Linked DNA regions of Homo sapiens. The protein of the gene in region 2 purifies or fractionates together with the protein of the main gene of each other region. This does not show direct contact. Each region holds a gene or a part of one and is shown on either strand. Other genes may lie near its edges.

Region 1 (3,659 bases), on a different chromosome or scaffold from region 2:
GTTAGGTGTTTCCATAGTTTTTTTTACTTCTAATGGTGAAGTTCATCTATGATTTAAATGCCAAAAGGCTAATTTAATCGATTTTAAGTGATCTCATATCTGCAATCAATATGAAATATAATTTAGATGAGAAAAACAGGTATTGGGTTTCTACAATTAACTTGAAATTAACATTACCAAAATTCAGCTTTGGTATTTAAGACAGAAATAGATAAGTTTATTAAAGTATAATTTTTAATACTTACTATCTAATTTTTGTCCTTCTGTAAAAGTTTCTAGGGCAGCAGCATAGTTTTTTTCATGGTATTCACATATTCTGCATGAATATATTTAAAACAAATTAAGACACACAAAAAATCTGGAAAATACCTTCTTTCTAAATAAAAAACTTAGTATTTTCTACTGTTGAAAGAAAAAATTTATTTTAAGTGTATGTTAATAAACCTAGAGACTTTCTAATATACTGTTAAGATCTAGTACAATTCCTACTAAAATTCAATTTTAGAACTCACTTCAGAAGGAATCTGACTTTAATTGTACAGACTTGCTTACTCAAAAATATAATTATACAAAGGAATTAAAGAAGTTTCTTAAAGAATAGTTATACTTATCAACAGAAACAAGATGGGATATAAAGTATACAGATATAGCGCTTTCATAGCATTAAATGTAGCCTATTCAGCTTTGCTGAATAGGATGTTGTCCAGTCAATTAAATATAGTAAATTCCAAAAGATTGAAAAAAAAAAAAAAAAAAGCAATGTGAAATCTATCAGTTTCATCTATACCTTGCAAATACTTCAATCATCACTATTTTAAAATTTACTAAGTACAGATCTCCTATCACATACTTTGGTTAACAAAATAATAGAACTATAAGTTGTATTTAAAATTGAATCATATCTCTGCTATATAATGTATAAATACAGAATTTTACAACTTATATAAAGCTTGCAATGAACTCATTCAACAAATTAAATACCTACTATCTATACCAAGCTCAACAAGAAGAGTAGCTACTGCATACCCTTTTCTCAGCATAGCAGTGGAATTATTTGGATTGAGTTCTAGAGACTTCTTTGCATCAGCAACAGCAACTGTGTAGAAAAAGACGGGTTTTTAGTCAGTTATTTATAGATCCTAGCAAATACACACAACATATGAATCAGTTTTAGATTTCTAAGTTTTCAAGTTGGTAGAAATGCCAAATGGTTTTAAATTAGGAAAAGCTAATACAAGATAGAATTCAAATAAATATTACTCTTGTACCTTCCTTTTGGCTTAACATTTAGCTTCCTTCTTAAAGCTCTTCAATGAATACAGCTGTGTCACAAAATTCACCTCCTTGTCTCATTAACATTTTCTATGTAATTTTACTCAAGGTATTCAGTTTTTCCCTATTCAGAAGGTACAAAATACAGAAATACATTACTTTTTAAATACAGGTGGTCTTGTTATGTTGCCCAGGCTGGTCTTGAACTCCTGGGCTCAAATGATCCTCCTGCTTTGGTCTCCCAAAGTGTTGGGATTACAGGCGTGAGCCACCATGCCTGGCCACATTCTTTTTTATAAAAAAAATTTAAACGAGCATTTCATTTTAATAGTCTGTCAAATAGTAAATGTGATGCTATTTTTTATCAGCATACCCAATAACTATGAATGAAATCTGTATACATTCTCCACCCAATGAAGGAAAAAGCGACATCCATAAAATTTAAATGGGTGTTGCTCAACATGTCTGTCACATTTGAGCTACTTTACCTTGTATAAAAGACCAATTTAAAAATTCTCAAAGACAACTTTTAATTTGTCATGGGTAAAATGTATAAGTAACTTATTAAAAGGGGGCAATATACTTTATAAGAAACGTTACCACAGTAATTCCCAAGAAGAATGTGACAATAAGCTCTTTGACAATAATACTGTGCATCATCTGGTTTCTGTTCCAAAGCCTTAGTCAGCTCCTACAAAAACAAACATGTGGAGCGTCAGTAAAAGTTTGTAAGAAGCCATCAAATTCTAATTAAAACATAATTTTTAATCAAGTAACTTATTGTCAGAAGCTATTTGGAGGAAAGATAACACGGATATAATATTGGAGTTTTTCCTTATAAAAGGATCAATATCTCCCCCACTTCTCTTGCCCCTCCTCCCAAAAGTAGGCAATCTAATGTAGCATCTCTGTACCGTAAAGCTTTTAGTTCCTGGTCTATAGAACTTAATAAATGATCATTATTATCAGCTCATATATTCTGAAGAGTTTAATTGTTACACATTGACCATTACAGATTTCCTCCTACTAATTTGAAGAAGATTCAAACACCATATAGAATTTGAGATTCCTAGAAAATGTTAAGCTGTGCAATAAAAAAAGACCAGAAGTTAAATCTAGCACTCAGGGAGGTTAAGACAATCAATACATACACAATCAAGTGTACCTGGCCCTCTCCTAGCCTCTAACAATAGCACACAACTCTAATAAAACCCAACTAAATATTCTGTTCAAAGCCCAGATACAATCTAATAGATGGCTATGTCAACTACCAAGAGTTAACATTAGAGATTGAAACTTTTTTAACTTGTGCAGTCACAACATATAGGTGTGGTAGCTGGAAAAATAATGATGTAAGAGATTACACAATTAGGGAGATCAAAGACAAGTGCAGGAACACTTTTATTTTCTGCCAACTGCCTACAAACTCTAGGGATTTGGTAGTTTTCTTAAATGGTAAAATTATTTCAAGAGCCACATGTATCATTGACTTTGCTTTAACCTAGTAGTGTGACTCTCAGAAAGCAACATATACAGATGCTCCTCAACTCACATGGGGTTACAGTCAATCAACAGAAAGTAAGGCTCAAATCAAGAGAGCAAAGAAGCTGTAAGATGCTACTTTAAGGGCCTCACTTTGTAGCTTGCAGGCAGTTATAAGGAATTTGGACCTTACGTTTGATGGAAAGCCATGGAAAGTTCACTGTTAGTAAGGGGAACATGGTCCAATTTACTTTTTTTTAATGTCATTCTGGCTGCAGTATGGTAAATACATTATCAAATCAAGACTGGAAACGGAGACTTCTTAGGAAACTATTACATTAAGTCTAGGCTAGAAAAGGATGTTAGCCACAGAGGTGATGAAAAGAAATACGATTAAGTTGGAACATATTAGAAGCAGAGAGACTTGCTAATGGGTGAACATGTGGGATAAGAGAAACTGAAGATGACTCCAGGGTGTTGGGCTTGCCTAGATCTGTATGTGACATCCAGTAATCACTCAATGAAAAGTATTGATTTTTCTTCTTGCAGACTTTTTTCAGCCTTTTCCCCAGTCTCTACTTTGACTGCATCTCCTTTGCCATAGAATACAAAAATATTTGCCTCTCTAGTCTTAATCTTCTCAAAGTCACTAATAACCCCTTATAAAATCCAACTGATTCCTATCTGACTTGATCTCTCTGTGGCCCTTGACAATAATAACCAGGCCTTTCAGCTTACCATTCTGCTGCCTCTTAAAAACTAATGTTCTCCTTGGGCTCAGTACTTAAGACTTCTTCCCCTCTACAAACATTCTTTGATTCCTTAACTACTGGGGGGCTTCACATATGTGTTGATGCATGCTGATGACTCAAGTCTATCTTGAGCCTAGACAGTGGTCCTGGGCA
Region 2 (2,775 bases):
ATAAATGAAAATGTAACAGTCATGGTGTTCATGTACTTTCTCTATGGTTGGAAAACTATACACTAACCCCTGGCCTGAAAGGAAAGAGTGCTCTGAAGACCAGGGATTTCTGGCATTGGAAGCGAATGCTATTCCCACGCAGAATAAATTAGGAGCTGAGGTGTACTGGCTGGTGACACTCAGATTCTAGTGTGGCAGTACTAGCTTCAACTCTCTAAATAAATTTCAAGGCTTTGTGAAAATAACCTCTCTTCTCATTCAAGGGTATGTTTACTGGTTCCATTCAACAAATATTTACTGAGCACTTCCTAACTGTAAAAGGATAGTGTTTGCATCTAGAGGACTAGAGACATGCCTGCACATCCCTCACCTTCAAAGGTGAACTCTACACAGGATTCTTGTCCTAGTCATTGTGGCAACCCCATCTGACACCTTGTGTAGTACCTAGCTTTATAGCAGGCATTAGAAATGGATTGGAACCTAACCAGAGATGGTCTGTATGCTCAGTGGAGTTCCTGGCTCTTAATTGTTTTAAGAAAATTCATTTTTTCCACACAGTTTTTTTTTTGATACATATATTTATTATGCTGTAAAAAGCAACACTACCTGATTGCATTTAAAATAAATGTTTCCCAATTTCAGAATACTTACAACTTGTAGTTTTAAGATTAGATTCACTTTGGGAGGTTTTAGAAGCAAATACATTCATAGCTGTGTAATCCCCAGGAAGAATCTAAATCTGACATCAGGTCATTCAGTCCCTGCCAGACAGACAACAGCATCAAATGGTCAACAGCTAATCCAGCTCTGCAGCTAAAGGGCAGTGTCGGGCAGCAGTGGGGTATAGCATATTACCAAAGATGAGACCAGCAAAAACAACAATGTGTATAAAGCTTTAAATTAACATGATCATATAGAGCGCTCAGGATACAGAAAAAGCACATATGATACTAAAGCCAAAACAAAAAGATCTTTGGAGTTTACTGACGGCAGCAGTTAATAGCACAGTCAACAGCATTTAAATCAAATATATTATTACCAGCCAACAGCAAACAGCCCGAGCAGGAATCGGCACATAGTCATAAATAACATCAGGGGTAAATAACGGCACATTTAATTAAACAACAAAGATTTTACAGAATGGTTTTGATCTGAAAAAAGATGAAAACTCTCTTTGTTCCCAAATAATGGTTAGAACCTCTTTTTATTATAGAAAAGCCTCAAAATCATTGGTAATCTTCAAGTCACACAATTCAACTGTCTTGTTTCATTTTAGTCACACAAAGCGGGCTGCTCTTTGAATAAAGTTATCTTGATTGATTTCAGTTAAAACGTGTCTACCCTGTAATATCTTTGGGGATAATGCTGCTCCTGTGCAGCATCTTACAAATGCTACCTGTCTCCATGGCTTGCTAGATCCACGGGGTAGGAAACTGCTCACTCAGCATCCTCCCCATGGAAGCTCAAGCATGGGAACAGCTTCGGGCCTGGTGCAGCTAAGGAACATTGGCCGTGGTTTCACCAAAGGAGGTGCCATCTAGGTAATGGGAGGGCAGTGGCAGGAGCCACTGGCTTAGACTGGAAGTGAAAATGAAAGCACCTGGAGGCTGCTGGAGTAAGGTGCCATCAGGCATGTAAAGTTTAGAAGCAGCAGAGTGTGCTCATAGAAAAAGAAAAAAAAAGGAATTTGCTGTATGTGATAACAACTAACATTCATGTACTTGAGCTCATTTCACTAAACACAGCTTCAGAGAAGTCCATTTGTGTGCATGTGTGTGTGTGCTTAATATCAGAACTCCTCACTAACATGCCACTTTATCTCGAGGTATGACAGGATAAAATGTATGTGTAACTCCTAGAAAATCCTGTTCTATCCGTTTTTTGAAGCCCCTTTTACCCACTTTCCAAATGAATCCTGAATTACCAACCCAAGACAAAGAATTATAGGTCACAATTTAAAATGAAATGGCCTTTTTCTTATTATTAAACTACAGAGCCCACCAAGAATTACACAATAGAAAAATCACAAGAAATCTGGAATGATCCAGTGGTCCCCCAAGGAGGACAAATCTCTTGATGCAGACTCTTAATGACAGGCTTGGAAACAAATGTTTGTTAGTTGTAGCAGTTCCCATACTTTCAGAATAACTTTGGTAGCTTAGAGCATTTCTGAATTTATCTTTACCCTAGAAGCTAAAAAAAAAAAACTTCTTAAAGAGCTGCAGTTGCACATCCCTTCGTTTTTTAGACTGATAAACTTGACTAATTTATACTTAGTAATTTTGTCTCTGGTTCGTCTTCTGTAGACAAATGGCAAAGTTCTGATGCCAGAAATAGGAGGCATTTTCTGACTTACTATGGAAAACATAAAAACTGCATAGTATGCCAGCTCTCACTTTCCCAGCTAAAGGAAAGAGGCAGATAGCTAAATGTCTGAGAAGAGAGGCTGGACTAAGGGGATATAGAAAAAGGAAAATTTTTCAAAAGCATTATAACTACATTCACACATACGTTTTGGTCACCAAACATATCTTAAACAGATTCCCTGATAAAGTCTAATCAGAATTGGTCTATCTTACTAACAGTTGTTAACTATTATAGTTTTTTAAGAGTCACATCATGAAGCTAGGGGGTGAGAGAGACATTTTAAACACACAACCGTAAGTGCATATAGTTGTTCAAACACTTAAACTAAATTTGTATTTGAAGTCTTGAAAATCACACTATTTGCTTCTAAAGGCAACCTTGACCCATTTGGACAGACTGTACAACAGA

What was found. Proteins that work in one complex are often made in the same cells at the same time.
Region 1: the proteins of GLS (region 2) and SUGT1 fractionate together in Homo sapiens (co-fractionation; one large-scale study listed by BioGRID). This does not show direct contact.

The regions. Positions count from the first base shown.
Region 1 is NC_000013.11:52,655,836-52,659,494, reverse strand, and holds part of SUGT1 (protein SGT1 homolog), read right to left. Parts: intron 1,964-3,659; coding exon 1,873-1,963; intron 1,397-1,872; exon of another isoform or gene 1,288-1,396; coding exon of another isoform or gene 1,269-1,287; intron 1,097-1,268; coding exon 1,027-1,096; intron 317-1,026; coding exon 246-316; intron 1-245. UniProt on the Homo sapiens protein: May play a role in ubiquitination and subsequent proteasomal degradation of target proteins.
Region 2 is NC_000002.12:190,963,336-190,966,110, reverse strand, and holds the end of GLS (glutaminase kidney isoform, mitochondrial isoform 1 precursor), read right to left. Parts: 3' UTR 559-2,775; downstream 1-558. UniProt on the Homo sapiens protein: Catalyzes the first reaction in the primary pathway for the renal catabolism of glutamine. Plays a role in maintaining acid-base homeostasis. Regulates the levels of the neurotransmitter glutamate, the main excitatory neurotransmitter in the brain.